Linked DNA regions of Homo sapiens. The protein of the gene in region 5 purifies or fractionates together with the protein of the main gene of each other region. This does not show direct contact. Each region holds a gene or a part of one and is shown on either strand. Other genes may lie near its edges.

Region 1 (3,500 bases), on a different chromosome or scaffold from region 5:
ATATGTACAAAACATATGTGTACGTTCATTATATACAGAATATGTGTATTCTATAGAATATACATATACACAAAAATAGTGACCACTTATCACTCTTCTTTTTTATTTGAAGCACAGTGTAGTTAAGAGAACAGGCTTTGGAGTCAGGAAGGCTCCAGTGCTGTCATTTAACAGTGATGCAATTTTTGGCGAGTAACTAACCCTAAGCCTCAGTTTCCCATCTAGGAAATGGAGATAATTATATACCTACCTCACAGGGTTGTGAGGTTCACACACCATCATACATTTCGAGCACTCAGCTCAGTGCTTGGCACATTGTTAAGTGCTCTGTGACTATTAGCTATTATTATTACTTTCCTGTTTTTTTCTATTGAGTCTTTAATTTTTTCTTATCCCTGTACAAATCTGAAAAAGGATACTAACTTTCCTCTGACATACGTAGAAAACATTTTTCCAGTTTGTCAACTGCTTGTATTTTTATTATAATTTTTGGCATAAAGAAATTAAATATTTTATAAGCTTAAAATTACTTTTTTTTTCTTCGAGATGGAGTTTTGCTCTAGTCACCCAGGCTGGAGTGCAATGGTGTGATCTCAGCTCACTGCAACCTCTGCCTCCCAAGTTCAAGCAATTCTCCTACCTCAGCTTCCCAAGTAGCTGGGATTATAGGCATGTGCCACCACGCCCAGCTAATTTTGTATTTTTAGTAGAGATGGGATTTCACTATGTTGGCCAGGCTGGTTTCAAACTCCTGATCTCAAGTGATCCACCTGCCTCAGCCTCTCAAAGTGTTGGGATTACAGGCATGAGCCACCACACCCAGCAAAATTACTTCTTTTAAAATGTTTTTATGTGTTTTTCTTTACTTTATGATTAGAAAATACTTTCTGCCCTTGAGATACATGCACCTTTCTTCCTTCTATTCTTTTTTTTTAATGTAAATTCTTTTTTTAAAATTATTTTTATTTTTTGGACACAGGGTCTCGCTTTGTACCTCAGGCTGGAGTGCAGCAGCACAATCTCAGCTCACTGCAGCCTTGACCTCCTGGGCTCAATCGATCCTCCTGCTTCAGCCTCCCAGGTAGCTGGGACTACTGGTGTACCCCACCACGCCTGGTTAATTTTTCTGTTTTTTGTAGAGACAGGGTTTTGCCATGTTTCCCAGGCTGGTCTTGAACTCCTGGGCTCAAGCAATCCACCTGCCTCAGCCTCCCAAAGTGCTGGGATTACAGGTGTGAGCCAGCACGCCTGGCCCCTTCTATTCTTTAGCTTAATTTTTTACATTTAAGTCCAATCTAGCTGTAATTTATTTTTGTGTGTGGTGTAAGATAAGGATCTAATTTCATTTTCTCCATATAGATCATCTATTGTCATGGCGGCATCCATTGATAAATCTGTCCTCTTATCATTTTAAAGAAATGATATTTTGTTGCTGTTGTTGTTTTGAGATGGAGTCTCACTCTGTTGCCCAGGCTGGAGTGCAGTGGTGTGATCTCTGCTTACTGCAACCTCTGCCTCCGAGGTTCAAGTGATCCTCCTGCCTCAGACTCCCTGGTAACTGGGATTACAGGCGTGCCACCATGCCCAGCTAATTTTTGTAATTTTAGTAGAGGTGGGTTTTACCGTGTTGCCCAGGCTGACTGAACTCCTGACCTCAAGTGATCACCCACCTTAGCCTCCCAAAGTATTGTGATTACAGGTGTGAGCCGCTGTGCCTGGCCAAGGAATGATTTAAACAAACTTTTACATTGTACCAGACAATTATTGGGTCTTTTTCTGGCCTTTCCCTTTTGTTGAGACTATTGAGCGTCTAGTGTGAGGTAAGCAGTCACGCAGAGAGCATTGGCCTCAGGACCACAGTGGAGGGCCCTGAAGCCTTGATGAGCTCGATTTGTTGTCCTCCCCCCTCCCCAGGGGATTCGTTTCCCTTTCTTTTTCTTTCAGTTCATGTCTCTTCCTCTCCCATTTCCTTCCCTAGGTCTCATAAGAATAAAAATAGCTCTCATTCATTGAATACCGGCTATGCATAGGCCTTTGCCTCGATTGTCTCTAGTCCTCACCACAGCTGCATACAGCTTGGCTGTGAGGTGGAGATACCAATCACCCTACCCAGGATGGGCAGAAGGCTAGGGAGGTGCAGGGAGGAGGCCAGGAGGCAGAGGAGGTGCAGGGAGGAGGCCAGGAGGCCAGGCAGGTGCAGGGAGGAGAGTTGCTTCAGTCCTGTCCCTCATTGCTCCTCTCTTGACCTGTCCCCTCGCCTTACGTTTCCTCAGGTCAATCTCTTCTCTGTACTACCTGACCATGATCCTGTGAAAAAACTGGAGTTGCCCATCTTCTTCTCAAACAAACTAGCAAACAAACCCCTTCTCAAACCCCAAAGCCCACAGGTTAAAGGCTGAACTTATTAGCATGGCAGAAAATGCTCTTGATAGTCCGGCCCCAGCCTTCCCCAGCCTCTTCTCCTTCCTTGCTCCAGCATGCATCTGATTAGCTCATCATCAGCTTGTTCTCTTCCTTGCTTGGCAGAGTTGAACTGAGGCATGGGGAAGTAGGGTGCTTTGCCCAAGGACACATTGCTTGGATGTAATGGAGCTGGATCTAGAGTCAGTGTCTTCTCACTGACAACAGCCTGGCCTATTCCCTAAGCCTGTGATGCACTTGTTCCTCTTGTCCCATCTGCTGGGAAGCTCTTCTCCATCCTGATGTGCTAGTGGATATGTATTCGTCCTTGAGTACCTAGCTCAAGAGGACTAGCTTCAAGAGGCTTTTGCCAGCTCTGACCAATGAGCAGGACCAGTGCACGTGGTTATGCTGGTGGTGCCCTGTCCGGGGCTCCTGACCGAGCATGGGAGTTGGAGCTGAAGTCCAGCATACACCCTGCCAACCAGGCCATGGGCTGGGTGGGAGGAGCACCTTTTTCTAATTCATTTGCCCAGAGGGGACATCTCCGTGTACTGGCAGTGGCCCTGAAATCAGGCTAGTGACCCCTGCTTCTGTTTTCTTGCAGCACCTTGATGGCATATGATTAGGACATGACAGAAGAGAAAGTGGCTAAGGTGGCAGGCTGACAGCGAATAGTCAGGCTGGTGTAGGAGGCAGCCCAGGGGACAGTGGCGTGCCCTACCCCCCTATTCTTGTCTGCTCTTGTGCCCCGGAGCCACAGGCTTCTGTCTAGGGGTTCTTGGGGAGAAGGAGGTGGATCACCTCTTGGGGGTTGGAGGAGTCAAAAGAACCTTGAGAGGGCATGCCTGGGTTGGGAGTCCTGCAGAGTCCAGATTGACTGTGCCAAGTGCTATCCTAACATGGCCATTAGGGACATTGAACTCCATGCAGCAGTAGCAGGGACTGCTGAAAACCATGCTGCAGACAGGCCAATCTCAGATCAAGTACAAGTACATCAATCAATGTATTCAACACCCAGTATGTGCCCAGCACTATGTTAGGGGTTGTGGGTTCTCATTTAACGTCCACTGAAAAATGTAAGTATATATTCTTACTTC
Region 2 (3,500 bases), on a different chromosome or scaffold from region 5:
GAAACCCCGTCTCTACTAAAAAAACACAAAAAATTAGCCGGGCGTGGTGGCGGGCGCCTGTAGTCCCAGCTACGCGGGAGGCTGAGGCAGGAGAATGGCGTGAACCCGGGAGGCGGAGCTTGCAGTGAGCCGAGATTGCGCCACTGCACTCCAGCCTGGGCGACAGAGCAAGACTCCGTCTCAAAAAAAAAAAAAAAAAAAAAAAAAAAAAAAAAAAGAATGCCATTACTAATGAACATCCATGTTAGTTCAACACAGTGCCTGTTAAACAAGATACAATAAAATATTTTTAATGTATTAAAGTAGTAATTATTTGTAAACCAGCAGGACTCTTTTGTAAACATTTTTTATTGCTAATATTGAAAACCCTGAGCAGAAAAAGAAGAAATGGCTTTTTCAGAATAACCCTCCTCTAAAATTAGTTGACTCAAATCAGTTCTCCCTATAAGTTTCAGCGATCTCTATATGATCTGCACTACCTAGAAAGTGAGGAAGAAAGAGAATATAGTATATCAACAGAAACAAACGTCACTCTTTTTTTCTCTTTAACCTTCAGAAAAAAAAATCTTCTTTGGTTAGACTGCTCTCCCAAAATTGAAATAAATGTGAAATCCTATTCTTAAATTAGCAGAGATATAATTATCAAATCTGAGAAATTGGACTGTATTAATAAACTGGGGAGAAAAGTCCTTTCTCAGACATTTGAGGACAACTGGAGTTGCACATTCCACCGACATCCTCACATATCTGGCAAGTTTGACATAATACTGCCCTGGCTTTACAGAAAAATATTTCTCTAAAGAGCTCTAAGTACTTTCAAACACTTGTCATTTATCTTCACAATATCCTAGTGAGGAAGGTTAGTGCAGATAACTCCTATCTCCACCTCAGAGATGGAAAAACTGAAGATCTGAGTCACTGGAAGATTAATCCAGTAAACTGGCAGTCTGACAAGGGCAGAAAATAGAACCAACTGCCAGGCCAGTGATCTGGTCATGCTCTCTTTAGTTATTAACATAAGAGCCTGAGAAAGAATAAGAGTCCATGAAGATACTGAACCTGTCTGTTGAAGGAATACCCTGAACAGAGTGAAGAGGCTCATATATGAAGTCTACTCATATCAACTTAATTATTCCCATAACTTGGAGGAAAGTTTTCTCAGTCTTCTCTTTAATGTTAAAAACCACTTTGTGAGCAAAGGACATGAACACACACATCAAAAGAAGACACTGATATGGTTTGGCTGTGTCCCCACCAAAATCTCATCTTGAATTCCCACGTGTTGTGGGAAGAACCCGGTTAGAGGTAACTCAATCATGGGGTCAAGTCTTTCCCGTGCTGCTCTCACAATAGTGAACAAGTTTCACAAGATCTGATCGTTTTAAAAAGAGGAGTTACCCTGCACAAGCTCTCTCTCTCTGCCTGCTGCCATCCATGGAAGATGGGACTTGCTCCTCCTGGCCTTCCACCATGATTGTGAGGCTTCCCCAGCCATGTGGAATTGTAAGTCCAATTAAACTTCTTTCTTTTTTAAATCAACCAGTCTAGGGTATGTCTTTATGAGCAGCATGAAAACGGACTAACACAAACATATATGTGGCCAACAATCATACAAAAAAAAAAAAAAAACAACTCAGCATCACTGATCATTAGAGAAATGCAAATCAAAACCACAATGAGATATTATCTCACACCAGTCAGAAGAGCTATTATTAAAAAGTCAAAAATAACAGATTCTGGCGAGGTTGTGAAGAAAAAGGAATGGTTATACACTGTTGGTGGGAGTGCAGATTAGTTCAACCATCATGAAAGACAGTGTGGAGACTGCTCCAAGACCTAAAGATATAAATACCATTTGACTCAGCAAAATCCCATTACTGGGTATATGCCCAGAGGAATAGAAATCATTCCATTATAAAGACACATTCACTGCAACACTATTCACAATAGCAAAGACATGGAATCAACCTAAATGCCCACCAATTATAGACTTTGATAAAGAAAAATGTGATACATAAACACCATGGAATACTATGCAGTCATAAAAAAAGAACAAGATCATGTCCTTTGCAGGGGCATGGATGGAGCTGGGGGCCATCATCTGTAGCAAACCAACACAGGAACAGAAAGTCAAATACTACATGTTCTCACTTATAAGTGGGAGCTAAATGATGAGACACATAAGCACATAGAGGGGAACAACACACTGTACGGCCTATCAGAAGGTGGAGGGAGAGGAGCAGGAATATAGCTAATGGGTACTAGGCTAAATAGCTGGGTGATAAGATAATCTTTACAACAAACTCCCATGACACAGTTTACCTACGTAACAAACTTGCTCATGTACCCCTGAACTTAAAAGTTTAAAACAACCACTTTGTCAGAAAGATAACCATATTGCCTATTTTTTTATTACAGATGATTGGAAAAAAAAAAAACAACCTTTGTAGAAATTAGTGGTAATGGTAACTACTTCTGATGTCTCACTTATGAGATATTCTTAAGGCTTAATTTTTATAAAGAACAAGAATATAAAAAGGTGTATTATTTGACTAGCACTCATACCCGTAGGAGTGTCAAACAGGTCATTTAATTCAAATTTTGACATGCTCTGTGTAGACCTAGCACTGCTCCAAGTTAAAATATATTATTAACTTTAATATTTGAGTGGGTTGACTGTCACATAAAATCCTCATGATCATTTAACGTTCTCACCCTAACCCCCGCAAAATCCCCAACCTTGAAAAACTCAGATACTACAACTCCTTGAAGACAAATAAACCTACATGAATAAAGACAAAGCCATTAAAGCCTTTCTCAGACATACTAGCAGCGGCCAGGTGTGGTGGCTCACGCCTATAATCCCAGCACTTTGGGAAGCCAAGGCGGGCGGATCACCTGAGGTCAGGAGTTCAAGACCAGCCTGGCCAACATAGCGAAACCCTGTCTCTACTGAAAATACAAAAATTAGCCAGGCGTGGTGGCGGGCGCCTATAATCCCAGCTACTCGGGAGGCTGAGGCAGGGAGAATTGCTTGAACCCGGGAAGCGGAGGTTGCAGTGAGCTAAGATTGTGCCACTGCACTCCAGCCTGGACGACGTAGCATGACACTGTCTCAGAGAAAAAAAGAAAGAAAATACTAGCAGCAGTTCTCAAAGTTTGCTACTCAGACCAGCTAAATCAGTTAGAAATGCAAATCTTTAGGCCTCACTCCAAATTAACTAAATCAGAAACTCTGGGCCTGGGACCCAGTAATCTGTGTTTTATCACGCCCTACTGGCAATTCTGATATACTAAAATTTGAGAACTACTGCTCTCCCAGAAAAGTTGGCAATATTAAAAGCAGGTCCCCTCTTGGCAACTTGACAGAGAAAGTGACCTAACCATAGATTACCAGTTCACGCCCCTTACCTCCTGCACCTCTCGGGTTGGCTTCTCCCTTGCTGTGTTGTAACCTTGTGGAGAATGTGCCACCTGGGTCACATTTTGCTGTTCTGCTG
Region 3 (4,298 bases), on a different chromosome or scaffold from region 5:
CTGGGCAGAAGACCTTTGGTCGTACCTCCATCAGTTGCTGGAGGGTGTCATTACAGGCACCCAGCTTGGTCATAGCAAAAGCCGTGGAGATACTCAGGGGTGACAGGAAAATGTTATCATTGTCATTCTTGGAATCTGCCAGGTGCTGATAGAAAGTGGTAGCAAAGCGGGAATTGGCCTTGGACAGTTCCCAGACACGCCGGTTGGTGGCCTCCGGGATCTTCTGTTCTGAGCCCTCATCCTCAGTTGCCTTCTTCTCCGGGGAGCGGTAAATGCACATGGGATTCATGGGAATGTCCCGCGGCTTGGCTGTGCAGATGTCCACAGGGCTCCCGTGACAGGTCACGCAGTCCCAGAAGCCAATGAGCAGCAAGGACAAAAGATAAACCTTCCTGCAAGGAGACAAAATGCCAAGTTAAGCTAGGCTGCAACCCCTAGCCCCACTGCCCACCACAGGGTTGCCCCAGTAAAGCAGAGGATTCCAGCCCACCTGGTGTGGCCAAGAGAAAGGCTAAATCCTTTGAACCAAGTACAGGGGCCCGGGACAGGTTCAGTCCTAGACTTCTTGCCAGGGGACAGTTCAGTTGCCTGGACGTGGTCATGTTGGAATTAGAATCATCTGATGGTTATTTGGAGTATTATGTGCTCAATTCCCCACGCTGGGAGAAAAAAGAATGAGAAGCTTCCTGTTTGTGACATGGAATGTGCATGCCTAAAAAATCGGCTTTAGTGCCCAGTGAAGAGTCAGGGTGGTAGGGGGAGCCATCTACAGAAACTGTTTGGGGAAGGACTCTGATAGATGCAGCAGAGAGATTTCAGCAACACAAGAGAAGTAAGAAGAAATGGATGGAGCAAAGGCAATATCTGGCCGGGTGCGGTGGCTCACGCCTGTAATCCCAGCACTTTGGGAGGCTGAGGCATGCAGATCACTTGAGGTTGGGTGTTCGAGATCAGCCTGGACAACATGGTGAAACCCTGTCTCTACTAAAAATACAAAAATTAGCTGGGTGTGGTGGCGCACACCTGTAGTCCCAAGCTACTAGGGAGGCTGAGGCAGAAGAATCACTTGAACCCAGGAGGCGAAGGTTGCAGTGAGCTGAGATTGTGCCACTGCACTCCAACCTGGGTGACAAAGTGAGACTGTGTCTCAAAACAGCAACAACAAACAAACAAACAAACAAAAACAATGGCAATATCTGTGTGCTGAAGATTCCTACATCTCTAGCTCCAGCCCTAACCCTTCCACTGAGCTCCAGACTGACTATTTGCTGGACAGTTCCACCAGGAACTCCTACAAGTTCTTCAGGGAAACAGGACCAAACTGAACTGGTAATTAATTCTCCCCCACAGGCCTGCTCCTGTGAGTGGGCTCAGTGAATCCCGTACAGAAACCTGAGAATCACCCTGGATTCCTCCCTCTCTCCTCCTCATTTAGTCAAACCCCAGAGTCAATCAGTTCACCCCAGAGTCAATCAGTTCTGTTTTTTTACTCTTTCACCAGTTATTGCCACTGCTTTAGTTCAGGCTCTCATCCCTTTTTATTGCCTGGAATTTTTAATAGTCGCCAACATGGATTCAATGAAGGTAAATGAAGCTAATTTCACATTTTAAAAAAATGAGGTAGTTGGGACACTCGATGAAGCAAATCAAGAGATAAAGTCTCTTGTAATATTTTTTGTAGATAAGACAGGGTGGGGCAGGGGCTGCCTCCAGCTGGTTTATGGTTCCTGCGTGTACACAAGGGGGTCTGTGTGTGGGTACTGGATCTTCCCATCTTCTCCTGGGAGAGAAAGACAGGCACCCAGTGCAGATTCACGGACGTGGTCCGTTGGGCAAGCCTGGGGCTGGCTGGAAGCTGGGGCAGCTGAGGGGGACTTGCCTTCTTGCGTGGTCTGAGTCCAGTTCTGCAGCCCTTTCAAGAACAGAGGTGCAAAGCCGGAGAGAAGCAGCGGCACCAAGGGAGATGTGGAAGGCAGGCTGAAGAAGCAGAGAGAGAGAGGAGAGGACCCTGCCATTCATCTTCCCATCTCCACTGCCTTCGGTTGCCCACTCTGTCCTTCAACTACATTTGGAAATGCAATTTGAGGCTGAGAGGACCCTGGGAGGGCTATGAAGCACAAATTAAAACCAAGACAGTTGTGCCACCACCCCGTTTCTAGCCTCCTGTGACAACTCAGATGAAGAAGGGAGTGTGTGTGGCATTGAGGGAGGGACAACTCTCATTGTGAGAAAAGGAAGCAGTTTTGGCCCTTTAGTCAAAGGTCACTGGGATTTGGGTGGGGGTGGAGTGGGGTGGATCTGAGTGGAAGAAAGAGCAAAAAGGGAGTGAGGAGGTCCTCATGGGTAGCATTTGCTCTCTTCCCGGATGGATGGCAGGCCCTGGGGATTCCCCTTGGAGCGTCCCCTGGATCCCGTGAGTGCTGACTTCCTGCACAGCATCTTTACACCAGGGATGACATCCCCCTTGTTTCTTAGGCTAGGGACCCAAGGGGTAGCTTAGGAAAGGCCTTACCCCAAGAGGTGGGGTGGGAGGGAGAGCACTTGAAATGACGTCTTCCAAACAGGTCTTTGACTGTAACTACCAGGGAGAGGGCCTGGTCTTCTCAAAGGTGTTGGAGGTCATTCCTGTGAGTCCTTTGGAGGTCACAAAACCCAGTAGGGGCAGGCAAGGGGAAAGCTCACCCCTCTTACCTTTTTCCAGAGGTTACAGTTCCTATCACATTGGAATACATGGCCGCTAATCTTCCACAGGGCTGGGCAAGTGGAGATAGTGTGATCTGAGGCAATCCGCCTGAAAACTGGTTCTTTCCTCTAAATCTCGCAGAGGTTCCAGAGGACAGGGTGGGGCAGAGAGCTGGTCAGGAGGGGGAACTGAGGTCAAAGGCTGATGACCAGTTCCCAGGGTTAAGCAAAGTGTAGAGCCCAGTGTTGTTTAATTAGTAGAGAAGTTTTAAAGTTCAATCAGGCCCAGGGAAAGCCTGAGCCACCTCTCTTGCCCACACTCCCTCACTCTTCTCCTCAGCTTTATAGAAAAGGAAAAGGAGAGTATGTTCATACCCTCAAACTTGGTTAGGAAACTAACCAAGGAAACAAACTTGGTTCATACCCACCCTCTCTCATAGTTTTCTTTATGGAGAGAGGGAGAGAGAGAGAGAAATATCTAATTAGAGAAGGCAAAGAGGGACAAGCTGCTACCTTCAGGCATCTGAGTGCCAAGGTGTCCCTGGCACAGACAAGGAAAACACAATGGTTACACCTGTGGCCCACAGAGAGACCCATTCCCCAGCAGCCCTGAAGTGGTGGGACAGGGAGAGAAGAGCAGGGCCTCGGGGTGCATGCCAAGCGCGTTTCTAAGGGGTGTGAGCAGCTGGGAAATACTTAGCAAAACTCTACTGGGGGATCAGGAGACAGAATGCGGGGCAGGTGAAAAACCCACGTACAACTGCTGAAATAAAAACAAACTAAATTATATTTATGTGTATCGTTATTTTTATTAGTTATTGGGGAGATTGGGTAAATTCAAACTAGTGGAGATAAAGGGCAGGTTTGTTTACATTTCCCTCTTCTGAAATAGCCAAAAGCACCATCACAAGGACTGCAGCCACCAAGTTCACAGGGCGCATGTGCCTCCTGCTGTGTGATCAAGGACTCCTTGTAGTTGTTGTTGCAGTCATAGGCATTTTCGAGAGCTCTTCGTTCATGAGAGAGGACATCTCTCCTGAACTGAAGCTGTGTCTAAGTTCTTGGCTGATTCAGACCCTGGATCCTTTGAAGCCCTCCATGTGCAGTGTGAACAGTAGCCGAGAACTGTCCCAAAGGGCCCCAGAATGCCCAGAGGCTCATCTGTCACCCTAGATTAAAGACTATTGAAAAGTCTCCTGTTCAACCACTTGAGTTCAACAAATACACGAGTGCTGCTTGTGCCAGCAGACACTGTTCTTGGGGCTGGGATTCCATTCGGGGGAGACATACAGCAATCACATAAAGAATCAGTATTTTAGGCCAAGCGTGGTGGCTCACACCTGTAATCCCAGCACTTTGGTAGGCTGAGGCAGGTGGATCACCTGAGGTCAGGAGTTCGAGACCGGCCTAGCCAACCTGGTGAAACCCCATCTCTACTAAAAATACAAAAAATAGCTGGGCATGGTGGTGGGCACCTGTAATTCCAGCTACTCAGGAGGCTGAGGCAGGAGAATCACTTGACCCCAGGAGGCAGAGGTTGCAGTGAGCCGAGATCGTGCTATTGCACTCCAGCCTGGGTGACAGAGCAAGACTCCATCTCAAAAAAAAAAAATCAG
Region 4 (3,500 bases), on a different chromosome or scaffold from region 5:
AATAGAGCAGCCCACTCCCAGATTATCATATTTTAAATATTACTAGGTAGTTGCCTAATTTTCATTGATTGTCTCTTGACTCTCAATCTTATACATCTGGATGTTTTTAACTCTGTTATTTTCTTTGTCTTTGGAAAGAGTGTGGAAAGAAAAGTTTGAACAAGCTGAAAAAAGAAAACTTCAAGAAACAAAAGAGTTACAGGTATTATTTCAACTTTCTAAACTGATTAGAAAATAAAAGAAATATGCCAAGAAATAAATATTGCCAATATGCCAATGCATGTAAATTTAATGTTTCAAATACTTACTATATACTGACTCTGTACAAAGCAATACCGTAAGGAAAATTAATATAAAGAAATGTTAAGATCAAGACTGGTTGCTTAGAGCCAGCCCATAAACTAGTTGGAAAGTTAAAGTATGAATAAACCATCTTGTTATATTTACTTTGGTTCTACAAATATATATTAAATGTCTATGCTTTTCAGGAACAGGGGAAGCCAAGGTGATTAAACACAGTTTCATCCCTCAGAGAGCTTGTGATCCAGAGAGAGATTTACAAAACGTAAATAGAAGACTGAAATGCAATGTGATTTCAGTAGATTGAGCCATAAGCAATTGCCATTTTTGTAGGTAAAGCATGGTTGAACACTGGCAGTTTCATATGGTTGAACCTAATGTAATGAAAAGTATTTCAAGTGATTGGTAGTGGGGGAGTACTATAAGAATTCAGGAGAAGAAGGGAAAATTCCTTGCGCATGGCCAATCCAATCTCATAAAAGAGGTGGCATTTGAGATGGGCTTTGAAGTTTGGGTAAGATTTTAATAGGAAGAGAAAAGGAAGAGCACATTCTTGGAAGAGAAAATTCTCTGAAAGTAAAGGTAGAAAAGTTTGAGTTGTCTTTAGAAAGGGTACGTAGATCAGTTTTACTGGAAGCAGTTTATATGAGATCATAAGGAGATACAATTGGAAAGATATGTTATGATTAGTTTATGAAGGACTTGATTTCCAGGCCAAGGAAATTAAGTTTTATCCTGTAGGAAGTGAGAAGCTGTTAAAAAGTGACCAGGGAATTTACATTTTGAGAGCACCCTTTCGAGAGAATTAACCTGGCATAGGATATAAGATGGATTGAAAACAGAAGCTGTTGACGGTGATCAAGAGGCTGCTTCAGTAGTTTTGGTGTGAGTTGACAGGGGCCTGTGGTGAAGGCAATGAAGATGCAACAAAACAAACTGATCTATTCTAAAGACGGTCAGTCAATAAGAAGACACAATTTGGTGATGATAGATTGATGTATGAGTAGACTGAGGATGGTGAAGGACAAAGAAGGTAGGGAGGTCACAAAGGAGAGATTCTAAGGAAGGAGGAGAGAGTCTAAAAAACCTTTATGGCCGGGCACGGTGGCTCACGCCTGTAATTCCAGCACTTTGGGAGGCTGAGGCGGGTGGATCACCTGAGGTCAGGAGTTCGAGACCAGCCTGATCAACATGACGAAACCCTATCTCTACTAAAAATACAAAAATTAGCCGGGCGTGGTGGCATGCGCCTGTAGTCTCAGCTACTTGGGAGGCTGAAGCAGGAGAATCGTTTGAACCCAGGAGGCAGAGGTTGCAGTGAGCCGAGATCGTGCCACTGCACTCCAGCCTGGGTGACACAGCGAGACTCTGTCTCAAAAAAATAAAAATAAAAAAATAAATAAATAACCTTTAATTTAGTGAGACTTCATATAGAATTGTTTTAATGTTTAATATAGACCATTTGTTTTAGGTGAATTTAACAATTTCATACTGTGATTAAGATTAATTTCTTTTTCTGACTTCTACCAGAAAGCAGGAATTATGTTTCAAATGGACAATCATTTACCAAACCTTGTTAATCTGAATGAAGATCCACAACTATCTGAGATGCTGCTATATATGATAAAAGAAGGAACAACTACAGTTGGAAAGTATAAACCAAACTCAAGCCATGATATTCAGTTATCTGGGGTGCTGATTGCTGATGATCATTGGTATGTTAATCCTCTAAAAAAAAAGAAAAGGCACCTGTTCTATATCTTGATAACATGTGGTTTCCTTCATATGGCATATTCGTTGATACTGATCGTTTGGTAGAATTCTTCAAACCCATTGTTTAGTCAGGAAAAACATACATTCTGAGTGTGTTATAAGGATGATAGGTCAGTTACTCTCAATATAAAGTACAGTGTAATGCTCTCTCTGTTTTTGTTTTGGCATACTTGATCTGTTGATTGAAGAATAATTTATTTTCTTGCAATTATAATGATGCACATGCAAGTAAACTATCTATCTTACATAACAGAATTTTTGGTTGGATTGACCAATTTAAAAATGTTACTTTATGTGAATTTTGTTCATATGAATGGAATACTTGTATATATTGTTGGAATGATAGCGTATGTAAACTTTTTTGACTCTGCATTGTGTTTCCAAGATTTGTGTACATTGGTTCCTGTTTTATTTTCACTGCTATGAAGTATTCCATTGTATGAGTTTATCTCTTATAAAGTTTAGGAAGTGCTTTTAAATTGTATGTCTGAGAGTAGAGATACTAGGTTGTAGAATATGTGCATATTCAACTTTAGTAGCTAATTTCAAATTATTTTCCAAAATGAATTTTTACTCCCATTGGCCTTGAGAATACCTGTTACTCCACATCGTTGCCAATACTTAGTACTGTCAGACTTTATGCCAATCTGATGAACACTAAATAGTATATCATTATGGATTCATTTTACATTTCTTTGATTAATAATAAGGTTGAACATCTTTTCATGTGTTGATTGGCCATTTTTGTTTACTATTGTAACTTGCCTCTTCATATCTTTTGTTGATTTTTCAACTGATTTGCTTATTTCTTAATAATTTGTAGGAGTTGCCAATCTTTCGTGAGCTTTTTGGTATAAATATCTTTTTTTCTAACGTGTAACATCTTTTTACTCTCTCTGGTGCCTTTGATTGATTGAAGTTCTTAATTTTATTGTAGTACCTGGCATCAGTCTTTTCCTTTATGATTGTCAGTTTTTATGTCTTAAAGAAAGAATGTTCTGGCTGGGCGTGGTGGCTTATGCCTGTAATCCTAGCACAGGTGTGTGGGCTCAGGAGTTTGAGTCCAGCCTGGGCAACATGGTGAAACCCTGTCTCTACTAAAAATACAAAAAATTTTCTGGGCGTGGTGGTACCTGCCTGTAATCCCAGCTACTCAGGAGGCTGAGGCATGAGAATCGCTTGAACCTAGGAGGTGGATGTTGCAGTGTGCCGAGATCATCATGCCACTGTACTTCAGCCTGAGTGACAGAGCGAGACTATGTCTCAAAAAAAAAAAAAAAAAAAAAAAAAGAGAGAGAGAGAGATAGAGTGTTCTGGCCAGGTGCGGTGGCTCACGCCTATAATCCTAACAGTTTGGGAGGCTGAGGCGGCAGATTACTTGAGACCAGGAGTTCAACATCAGCCTGGCCAACATGGTGAAACCTCAT
Region 5 (3,500 bases):
TGGTAAAAAATTGGAATCCGGCCGGGCGCGGTGGCTCAAGCCTGTAATCCCAGTACTTTGGGAGGCTGAGGCAGGCGGATCAGGAGGTCAGGAGATCGAGACCATCCTGCCTAACACAGTGAAACTCTGTCTCTACTAAAAATACAAAAAATTAGCCGGGCGTGGTGGTGGGCGCCTGTAGTCCCAGCCACTCGGGAGGCTGAGGCAGGAGAATTGGTGCAACTTGGGAGGTGGAGGTTGCAATGAGCTGAGATCGCGCCACTGCACCCCAGCCTGGGTGACAGAGCGAGACTCCGTCTCCAAAAAAAAGAAAAAAACAAAAATACGGCCGAGCGCGGTGGCTCACGCCTGTAATCCCAGCACTTTGGGAGGCCGAGGTGGGTGGATCACCTGGGGTCGGGAGTTCGAAACCAGCCTGGCCAACATGGTGAAACTCTGTCTCTACTAAAGATACAAAAAATTAGCAGGGCGTGGTGGCTTGCGCCTGTAATCCCAGCTACTTGGGACGCTGAGGCAGGAGAATTGCTTGAACCCGGGAGGCAGAAGTTGCAGTGAGCCGAGTTCGTGCCTCTGCACTCCAGTCTGGGCGACAGAGTAAGACTTTGTCTCAAAAAACAAACAAACAAAAATAGCTAGGCCTGATGGCGTGCACCTGTGGTCCTACCTACTGGGGAGGCTGAAGTGGGAGAATTACTTGAGCCCAGGAAGTTCAGACTGCAGTGAGCTATGATTGCACCACTGGACTCCAGTCTGGTGACAGAGCAAGACCCTGTCTCAAAAAGGAAAAAAAAAAAAAAAAAGAAAGAAAGAAAAATTCAACAATCAGAAAAAGACACTGAAAAGACAACAAAATGTGTGGACCTTGCTGGATGCTGATTCAAACTTTAAAAAACATTTACAGTCAGGAATATGGGAACAAAAACTGGACATCTGATGCCATTAAAGAGTTAATTGGTTGTAGGTGTGATGATGGTTTTGGTATTAATTTTTTTTAAATGCCCTTACCTAGTAGAGTTACATACTAAAGGACTTATCAACAAAACAGTCTGGCTGGGCACGGTGACTCCCGCACTTTGGGAGGCTGAGGAGGGCAGATCACTTGAGGTGGAGGGTTCGAGACCAGCCTGGCCAACATAGTGAAATCCCGTCTCTACTAAAAATACAAAAATTGGCCAGGCGCGGTGGCTTATGCCTGTAATCCCAGCACTTTGGGAGGCCAAGGTGGGTGGATCACGAGGTCAGGAGTTCAAGACCAGCCTGGCCAATATGGTGAAACCTCATCTCTACTAAAAATACAAAAATTGGCTGGGCGAGGTGGCGGGCACCTGTAATCCCAGCTACTCAGGAGGCTGAGGCAGGAGAATTGTTTGAACCTGGGAGGCGAAGCTTGCAGTGAGCCGAGACTGAGCCACTACACTCCCGCATGACAGAGTGAGACTCCATCTCAAAATACAAACAAACAAAGAAAAAAACACTGTGATGTCTGAGATTTACCAAAGCTTGATGTGAAGTGGGGTGGGGAAGTGAGTGAGGATGTGCGTGAAATTCAAAAAACCATGGGTTGATAATTATTAAGTCTCAGTGATGGGATGCTCGCTTCCTTCCTTCCTTCCTTCCTTTCCTTCCTCTTTCTCTCTCCCTCTCCTCTCTCTTTCTTTCCTTCTTTCTTTGAGACAGAGTCTTGCTTTGTTGCCCAGGCTGGAGTGCAGTGGCTTGATCTCGGCTCACTGCAACCTCTGCTTCCCGGGATCAAGTGATTCTCCTGCCTCAGCCTCCCGAATAGCTGGAATTACAAGCACCCACCACCGCACCCGGCTAATTTTTGTATGTTTAGTAGAGATGGGGTTTCACTCTGTTGGCCAGGCTTATCTCAAACTCCTGACCTTAAGTGATCTGCCCACCTCGGCCTCCCAAAGTGTTGGAATTACAGGCGTGAGCCACTGCACCTGGCCACCATATTTTTTTTCTTTTTGAGACAGGGTCTGGCTCTGTCATCTGGGCTGGAGTGCAGAGTTGCAATCAGTTCACTACAGCCTCAAACTCCTGAGCTCAAGCGATCCTCCTGCCATAGCCTCCCCAGTGGCTGGGACTAGAGGCACATACCACCATGCCAGGCTAATTTTTTGAGTTTTTAGTAGAGATGCGGTCTTACTATGTTGCCCAGGCTGGTCTTGAACTCCTGGGATCAAGCAATCCACCTGCCTCGGCCTCCCAAAGTTCTGGGATTATAGGCGTGAGCCACCGTGTCTGGTCCGTTTTATACTATTGTTTCTACTTAAGTGTGGTTTGAAACTTTCCCTCCTTAAGCCAGGAGTGGTGGCTCATGCCTGTAATCCCAGCACTTTGGGAGGCCAAGGTAGGCAGATCACGAGATCAGGAGTTCGAGACCAGCCTGGCCAGCATGGTGAAGCCCCCGTCTCTACTAAAAATACAAAAATTAGCCAGGCATGGTGGTGTGTGCCTGTAATCCCAGCTACTCGGGAGGCTGAGGTAGGAGAATTGCTTGAACCTGGGAGGCGGAGGTTGCAGTGAGCCAAGATTGCGCCACAGTACTGCAGTCTGGGCGACAGTGCAAGAGTCTGTCTCAAAAACAACAACAACAACAACAAAGGCCAGGAGCAGTGGCTCACGTCTGTAATTCCAGCACTTTGGGAGGCCGAGGCAGGCAGATCACGAGGTCAAAAGATCGAGACCATCCCGGCCAACATGGTAAAACCCTGTCTTTACTAAAAAAAAAAAAACAAACAAAAATTAGCCAGGCGTGGTGGTGCACGCCTGTAGTCCCAGCTACTCGGGAGGCTGAGGCAGGAGAATCACTTGAACCTGGGAGGCGGAGGTTGCAGTGAGCCGAGATCGCGCCATTGCACTCCAGCCTGGGCGACAAGAGCGAAACTCTGTCTCAAAAAAAGAAAGAAATTTTCCCTACTTAGGAAAGAAAGAAGACAATTAAAGAAAAACTACCTGGTTGAGTCTCAACTTCTCCTTTGTGGCACTTGGAATGAATATCTGTGCACATCCCCAGCTGGTATCTATCTTTGTCCAGCAGCCTGGGAGCCACAGAGGGTGAATGTGTGTCACTTCCCTCTTTGCTCAAGGCCCAGAGCAGCGCCTGGCAGTGCAAATGCTCTTGGCCAACAGTTGAATGAGTGGGGATCTGGGGGCCTCCGGGGAGGAAACAGTGAACTCTGCCCTACAGAGCTGAGGAAAGGCTTCTCAGAGGAAGTGATATCCAGCCCTGACCTTGAAGAATAAGGAGGGCTGGAGTATATGCAGAGAGGGGGAAGGGTGGAACAGAGAGGTGCCAGGGGAAACTGGATGAGCAAATGCCCAGAGGGAGGAGATTGCTTATGTTGGGTGGCTGGAGCGTAGACTCTGATGGCTGCGTAGAGACAAGTGCTGCTGCGTGGGTCTGATGAGGACATTAAGGCAAGGAAGGCCAAGCACAGTGGCTCACACCTGTCATCCCAGCACCCTGGGAGGCCAAAGTGAGAGAATCACTT
Region 6 (3,402 bases), about 44 Mb from region 5:
ATCTTGTTATCAGGTCAGCAGCGGCCATGGGGGTTTTTCTCCATCCTCCCTATCTTCACCCCCATTTTTTGTTTGTTTGTTTGTTTTTGAGATGGAGTTTCACTCTTGTCGCCCAGGTTGGAGTGCAATGGCGTGATCTCGGCTCACTGCAACCTCCACCTCCAGTGATTCAAGTAATTCTCCTGCCTCAGCCTCCCGATTAGCTGGGATTACAGGCATGAGCCACCAGGCCCGGCCCTCACCCCCATTTTGTACACTCTCTGCCATTCATTTACCCTGACAACTTACCGTCCTTCACAATCCAATGGTACTGCTTTCCATAAGAGATGCTCCAACCTCATCCTCACCACTTCTTGCCACCCAGCTGTTCCTCTCCCCACATTTCCTGTATGACATCCAGCACCTCCATCCTCCATCCTTTGCCATCCCATAGTGCAACCAGCTCTGCCCTTCCCAGCTCCTATTCACCATGATCCTCTGTCATCTTCCACTCTGTGCCATTTCGGGGCCCTACAGCACAACTCAACTCCATCACTGTCCATAGCTCATCAATGATGACTCATCTTCTACAACCCAATGGTGCCATCATCTTTCATCGTCCACCATCCAACACCATCATCTTCCACCATCCAATAACAGTGCCACTGCTACCACCCACTGCTGGTAACTCACTACCTTCTGCCGTCCCGAGTTCCACCCAACACCATCATCTTCCATCATCCACCACCATCCCCTCTTGGTAACTCATCCTTAACCATTCAGTGATGGCATCTTCCACTGACTGTCTTCATTCCCCACTACTCAACCATTCCTCTTTGCAGTCTCCTTTCCTACCACCCAGTGGTGCCATCCAACCACATCATTCTCTGCCATCTTCCATCCTTCACAACTCAATGGTGCCATTTTCCACCATCCATCACTAACAATTCATCACTCTCCACCATCCAAGGGTACCATCTTCCACTGACATTCTCCATTCCCCATCATCTGCCTTGTTCTAATCCCATCCTCCACCATCAAAATGGTGCCATCCAAAATTGTTATCCTCTGCCACCATTTGCCATCCAATGTACCATCTTTCCCTGATGTTTTACATTTTCTAAAATCTCCTTTCCCAACCCCATCTTCCTCAATCTTGTACCACCCATTGGTTTATACCATTGACTATTGTTTACTGTCCTTTCTTAGTCCTAGTATTTCCCATTGATTTTCTCCACCCCCTGCTGGCCAAACATTTGCCCTTCTCCAATTCTGTCTTCCTCCATCCATCACTGATAAAGCATCACCCTTCACTGACCCAAACTACCACATTCCACTGACATTCTCCATCCTGTTATGCGAATGTTCTTCTCTCCAATTCCAGATTCCACCCCTCCAAGGGCACCATCTTGCACTGCTCACAGCACAATGCCCGGTGATTGCTGTTCATTCAGCAGCCTTCACCATCCTTTGGCATCATCTTGGCCAACATTCCCCATCCTCTATCATCCCCTCACTGCGTTCTCTACCATCGTCGATCTTCCACCACTAACTTTGATCCTTTGTCACCCAACAGGGCCACCTTCCACTATGAGTCTTCATCTGTTGCCACCTAATACCTGGCCTTTCTCCCTCCACCTGACACTGCAGTCCTTCATTGAGCCAACACCATCCATACTCATCTCTCCTCACCCAACGGTGCCAGTCCCCACCATCTGACTCTCCTTGTCCACCGTCTACCACCCCTCACCCTCAATCCCTCAAGTCCCTTTCAGCCCTTTAACATCATCCTCCACAGGTGGCTGCTTCCAGAGGAAAGCCCCATTCACTTCCTTGAATATCATCCCCTGGGGCCATGTTCCCTAGTGAGTGGAGACACTGCAGGGTCAGCACAGAGATAAGACCCTCTCTTCCACCTATGTGGCAGTAGAAGCAAGTGGCCAACTGGTCAGCTGACACTTCTCCTGATTCCCAATGCTTATGCCTAACCCTTGGCCTTTGTATCCATCACCAACCAGGGCAGCCCTTTCCAGATCACTAAGGCTCCAGCCCCTCCCGCCAGTCTGTCTCTTCACTCACCCGGGCATCTGTGACCTTGAACTCTCGCAGGATATACTGAGGCATGTTGTATTCTGCCATCGGATCTACCACAAAGTACTGGTAGCGGGCAGAGCGCTCGGCCGGCCAGTACTGGTGACACTTCTCCTGTGGAGGAGATGGCGGCCGTGGTCAGCGCTGTCTGAGCCACAGTCTGGCCCTCGCCCTTCCCTGCTGTGGCCCCTAGCTCACCCGGCCCATCTCCCGCAGCTTGGTCAGCATCACCACGATCGTCGAATTGTTCTCCCACAGCATGCGCCAGAAGTCTTCCGTGGTCTCCGCCAGCGGCCCCTGTGTCGCGATGTAGGCCTTCTGCTGCCTGCAGGCGTTGGGGGTATGAGCCCAGGGCCGGCAGGGAGACCCGGCGTGGTACTCACCTGATGCTGCCCGGGAGGGTCAGGACCAAGCCAGTGACAGCTACACCTACCACCCCACTGCCTGCCAGGAATGGCTGCTGGGTGCACCACTTCCCCTCCTGGTGATCCCATTTTGCATGTGGGGAAACCACCAGTCTCATGACAAATTCAAATCCCTTGACAAAGCTGCGGGACTATCCACTAACCTCTCCTGATTTCTTCCCTCCATCTCCTTCAAGGGCCACTGCCCTACTTTCAGTTGCTTGCGTGGGCCAAGCTCTCAGCCCCGGGCCTTTGCACATGTGGCACCCTCTGCCAGGAACACCCTCCCCTCCTTTGCCAGGATTTCTCAATCTCAGTGCTATTGACATTTGGCGCTGGATTGTTCTCTGAGACAAGCTGTTCTGTGTACTGTAGGATGCTGAGCAGCATGCCTGGTCCCCACCCAGGCAGTACCAGTAGTACTCATGAAAATAAGAAATATCCTCAGGGTGTCAGAATTACCCCAATTGAGAACCACTGATAGAACAGATGGAATCACATTATGGACAGCAGCCATCAGTTAAACACACACCCAAAGATTCACGGACAGCAGCCATCAGTTAAATATACATCTAAAGATGTGTATTTAAACAGCTCAGGGCTACCAGTATCTCCCCAGCTCTGTCTCCCACAAGACTGGAGGCCTCTTGAGAGTAGAGATGGGCTCCTTCTGGGGCCCTGAGGTGGGAAAGGCATGGCACCTACCTGTAGCCATCAATGAAGCTGGCGTTGATGTAGTCAGAGCCCTCCACACCCCGGATGGGTTGCAGACAGACCCGTGTGCTCTCATAGGGCATGATGTTCACCAGGCGGTTCTTGAACTTGTTACAAGGCAGATTGGCACTGATGAAGCGTGACGTGTGGGCCTTGGAGTTAGCCAGCCGCTGTGGGGAGGAGGAAGCCAGAGGCCACCATCAGGATGAGGAAG
Region 7 (3,500 bases), on a different chromosome or scaffold from region 5:
ACCATGTTGGCCAGGTTGGTCTCGAACTCCTGACGTCAAGTGATCCACCCACCCCAGCCTCCCAAAGTGCTGGGATTACAGGCGTTAGCCATCGCACCTGGCCAATGTAAGACGGGAATCTAATGTTACCTACCTCATAAGGATATTGTGAGGAATAAATATGATATCATATACTAAATGCTTATCACAGTACCAGGGACACAGCAAAGCTCTCAAAAATGCTAACTGCTCCAGAAATACATTTGGATTTTTTAAACCACATATCCCAATTTGTAAATCCACATATCCCACAATTTGCAAAAATTGTCATTGGAGGAGATCATTCCTAGAAGAGCAGAAATTCTCATTTGGGGAAGATACATTGTAGAGTTGTTGGCTTTTATTGGCTCTGGGAGCCTGTAGTTGAAACTTATTGTTTAAACTGCCCGTGGAAGGAGGGTGGAAAACCTGGGGCTCCCCTTTCCTATTTGCTAGGCTTGTGGATGCCATAACCTGGCCTCTCCACTTGGTTAGAAGGAGGCTACAGTCAACTCAACAGAGAAGCTGTCTCTTGTCCTCATCCATGCCAGCGCGTGGTTGCAGGCCACTACCCCTCCCCACCTCCCCCAAGGCGTGACAGGAAGTGGAGCTGCCGAGCTTGGAGAGATCCCTGGAGGCACTTACAACCTTGCAGCTTCTTTATTTCACATGCTAATCAGGTGTCTCTCTGGATACCCTTCTCTGTACCTGCTCTGCCCTACACCCAGACAGAGGGAGGGTCCCTCTCCCGCAAAAAGGCACTGCCTGGAGCCAGGAGCTTCCCGGCTCCAGAAAACCTCCGGTGATAAATTATGCAGCAGCACCTCTGTGTCACTGCCTCTCAGCTAGATGGGAGGTTTGCTCCCAGTCTTTTGTTTCCGGCTCTGCTTGCCGCTCTGATCCTCAGCTGTGCATAGAGGTGAGGGGGAGCTCCCATAGGCCAAGTCAGGGCTTGCAGCAAGTCCCAGCCAGGCTATCCCCAGTTGGGTCCCAGACAGCGCCCCTCCCCTCATTCGAACCTGAATGATGGGGGAGTCCTATTCCGCATGGGGAAACAGGGTGTCAGGGAGCGCTAACAGCCAGTCCGCTCATCTGTGAGCAAGAATGGGAATGCCTACGAGCAGTGAAAGAATGAAGTCTGCTTGGATGGGCGTAAGAGGCGCCCAAGGGCACCTAGGATGTTTGCTTCTTGCTAAATCAAAAACGCACAACAGAAAATGGAGGCAGACAACCGTCAGGAAGCTAGAGAATTGGCTCTTTTTAACAGCTGCTCTTGGTTACGGTCAACTTTCCGCAGCTCCCAAAAATCACATCACTGGCACCAACTTAAAAAGAAGAAACAAAAGAGACAACAGGGGTCAAACTTTGAGGTGGAGGAACTAGGGGTTGGGGGCTATTCGGGGCTGGAGACCCACATCAATTAGGCCTGCAAGCTGACAGGCTTCCTGATTGAAAATGGTAGCTGCGAAGGCTCCACAACAGCCCAGCTCCCAAATTGGGGCAATTACTACCTTATGAGCTCTGGAGCCTGACTCCTTTCTCAGGCCAATGGGAGGGAGGGCTTGGAATTCTAAACTGTTCCAGCTACAAGAGTCCCTGGCCAGCCCCTCTCACCCCATGTCACAGGAATCTTAGCAGGAGAAGTTGCTAGGCTGCATCCCTGACCACTTAAGAAGGGAAACTCTCAGAGGAAAAGCTCCATTTCCCCAGACCTCTCTCAAGAGAACTAAGGCGACATGAGTTCCCCTAGACTGATGTTATAGCTTAGCAGACTTCTTTTCTAGGAGTGGGCACAAGTGGGAACTATGCTTCGGTTCTATCACGTTTTCAAGGGGAGAAAGAAGGGGCAGATCTTTAAAAGAGACAAGCAAAAGACCAGCTGCAATGAATGAAGGACCAAGTCTCAATTTTAGCACAGAACACGGTAGCATAATTATTTACCTGGCTCCCATGTTCTAAAGCCAAGAATCATCTCGGATCCACTTAGGTGACTTTGCTTACAGCTAACTTTTATCAAGCTCTACAGTAACACAGTAGTTGCCAAGCTCTGTGCTGCATAGTTTGAACATGCTATTATCTCAGGTAAATTTTATGATATTCCTATGTGATAATCTATTACTACTTCCCTTCCCCTACCCTACCCGCCTTTGCAGGTAACAACCCTGAGGTTCAGGGAGATTTTGCACAGGGTCACCAAGAATTGCCAGAGCCAAGATTCAAACCCAGGTCTGTGGGTGCTTCTTAATTGCTGAGCTTCGTATACAGTGATTATATTAATGCTTGACATATGTGTGTTTGCTGAATGAATGAACAAGTGAATGGGTGTGGAGCCTAGTTTGAGGAATGCTCCCGATTGTACGAGGAACTCATTCCTGCCAGCTCTAAGCTGGAGTGAGAGTGACAAGCCCATGCAGTCATCAGAACTATTTATAAGGTCAAACTCAGGCTCTGCCAGCTAACCAGTCAGCACTGAGTCTTCCCTGGGACACTGAATCCTCACAGGCTGAGGAGGGGAGGAGGGCTTCCGCTGCTGAAGATGAGATGGCAGTCCAGACACAGTCTGGGGCCCAGATGCCCCATGTCCAGGCAACTGTGACAAAACTCGTGGCTAAGCTGCATCAAGGAATGTAGAGAGACCATGGCTGGAACAGGCTAACAGACCTAGTCAACCAAGGGCACAGACTGTCTCGTAATCTTACCCAATCATAAAAAAGACAAGATTACTTCTTAAAGTAGTCCCTGAAATTCTGTTCCTATTCAGGAACCCCCAGTATTTTTTTTTTCTTTAAAGGGGCAGCAACATAAACAATTTCTCCTATTTTCCTTCTAACAGTTAAGACTGGCAGTTAATCGGTAGAAAGAGTGAGCAAAGAGCTATAAAACACCGTGTCCTCTGTGACCTCCTGTGTTCTTTGCTGGCCCAGAAGATGGACATACCCAACGTGCTCTGTATCAGACATGGCCAGACTTGGTTCCCTTGCACCTGTCATTCTTAATACCACGTGCCAGTCCAAAAGATGTTATCTGATATTCATCAGGGTACAGAAGAGGAAATCCAAAATCAGTGACAAGCCAAGTATGTTTCACAAGCCCAACAGATCAGGGACAAGGTCACTCAAGCACCATGACAACCCTGGTCACGACAACAGCGAGATGGAAAGGAGACCAGTCTCAGCTCAATTGCTCTGCACTTATTTTCAGATACAACCTTCTATCTACCCAAGCACGCCTAGGCAGAAGTTTTAACATTTCCCTTACCTGGATGAGACCTCTAGAACAAACACACTTTCCACTCTTCCAATGGTTGTCATCCATGCCCTTACTTCAAACTTCAGGATGAAAATCACTCAGGGCTATTACCAGCCATCAAGTTTCCTTCCAAAATCTTTAAGGTTGGAGAGTTATGTGGGCTGAGTCCAAACCAATAGGCTCTAGGAAAAGCCCCAAGGACTAGCAGCATCCAAATAAGCACCTTAAACTTT

The links.
Region 1: the proteins of FCGRT (region 5) and PODXL2 purify together in Homo sapiens (affinity purification with mass spectrometry; 2 studies listed by BioGRID and IntAct, with this or other methods). This does not show direct contact.
Region 2: the proteins of FCGRT (region 5) and GOLIM4 purify together in Homo sapiens (affinity purification with mass spectrometry; 2 studies listed by BioGRID and IntAct, with this or other methods). This does not show direct contact.
Region 3: the proteins of FCGRT (region 5) and SERPINC1 purify together in Homo sapiens (affinity purification with mass spectrometry; 2 studies listed by BioGRID and IntAct, with this or other methods). This does not show direct contact.
Region 4: the proteins of FCGRT (region 5) and KIF14 purify together in Homo sapiens (affinity purification with mass spectrometry; 2 studies listed by BioGRID and IntAct, with this or other methods). This does not show direct contact.
Region 6: the proteins of FCGRT (region 5) and PTPRS purify together in Homo sapiens (affinity purification with mass spectrometry; 2 studies listed by BioGRID and IntAct, with this or other methods). This does not show direct contact.
Region 7: the proteins of FCGRT (region 5) and LRP4 purify together in Homo sapiens (affinity purification with mass spectrometry; 2 studies listed by BioGRID and IntAct, with this or other methods). This does not show direct contact.

What each region holds. Positions count from the first base shown.
Region 1 is NC_000003.12:127,642,685-127,646,184, forward strand, and holds part of PODXL2 (podocalyxin-like protein 2 precursor), read left to right. Parts: intron 1-3,500. UniProt on the Homo sapiens protein: Acts as a ligand for vascular selectins. Mediates rapid rolling of leukocytes over vascular surfaces through high affinity divalent cation-dependent interactions with E-, P- and L-selectins.
Region 2 is NC_000003.12:168,033,425-168,036,924, forward strand, and holds part of GOLIM4 (Golgi integral membrane protein 4), read right to left. Parts: coding exon 3,412-3,500; intron 1-3,411. UniProt on the Homo sapiens protein: Plays a role in endosome to Golgi protein trafficking; mediates protein transport along the late endosome-bypass pathway from the early endosome to the Golgi.
Region 3 is NC_000001.11:173,914,528-173,918,825, forward strand, and holds the start of SERPINC1 (antithrombin-III isoform 1 precursor), read right to left. Parts: upstream 2,801-4,298; 5' UTR 2,733-2,800; coding exon 2,692-2,732; intron 2,414-2,691; exon of another isoform or gene 1,978-2,413; coding exon of another isoform or gene 1,880-1,977; intron 660-1,879; exon of another isoform or gene 491-659; intron 393-490; coding exon 26-392; intron 1-25. UniProt on the Homo sapiens protein: Most important serine protease inhibitor in plasma that regulates the blood coagulation cascade. AT-III inhibits thrombin, matriptase-3/TMPRSS7, as well as factors IXa, Xa and XIa. Its inhibitory activity is greatly enhanced in the presence of heparin.
Region 4 is NC_000001.11:200,596,752-200,600,251, reverse strand, and holds part of KIF14 (kinesin-like protein KIF14), read left to right. Parts: intron 1-138; coding exon 139-202; intron 203-1,830; coding exon 1,831-2,015; intron 2,016-3,500. UniProt on the Homo sapiens protein: Microtubule motor protein that binds to microtubules with high affinity through each tubulin heterodimer and has an ATPase activity. Plays a role in many processes like cell division, cytokinesis and also in cell proliferation and apoptosis.
Region 5 is NC_000019.10:49,515,661-49,519,160, reverse strand, and holds part of FCGRT (IgG receptor FcRn large subunit p51 isoform 1 precursor), read right to left. Parts: intron 3,048-3,500; coding exon of another isoform or gene 2,962-3,047; intron 1-2,961. UniProt on the Homo sapiens protein: Cell surface receptor that transfers passive humoral immunity from the mother to the newborn. Binds to the Fc region of monomeric immunoglobulin gamma and mediates its selective uptake from milk.
Region 6 is NC_000019.10:5,208,411-5,211,812, forward strand, and holds part of PTPRS (receptor-type tyrosine-protein phosphatase S isoform 1 precursor), read right to left. Parts: intron 3,359-3,402; coding exon 3,180-3,358; intron 2,396-3,179; coding exon 2,269-2,395; intron 2,185-2,268; coding exon 2,059-2,184; intron 1-2,058. UniProt on the Homo sapiens protein: Cell surface receptor that binds to glycosaminoglycans, including chondroitin sulfate proteoglycans and heparan sulfate proteoglycan.
Region 7 is NC_000011.10:46,912,051-46,915,550, forward strand, and holds part of LRP4 (low-density lipoprotein receptor-related protein 4 precursor), read right to left. Parts: intron 1-3,500. UniProt on the Homo sapiens protein: Mediates SOST-dependent inhibition of bone formation. Functions as a specific facilitator of SOST-mediated inhibition of Wnt signaling.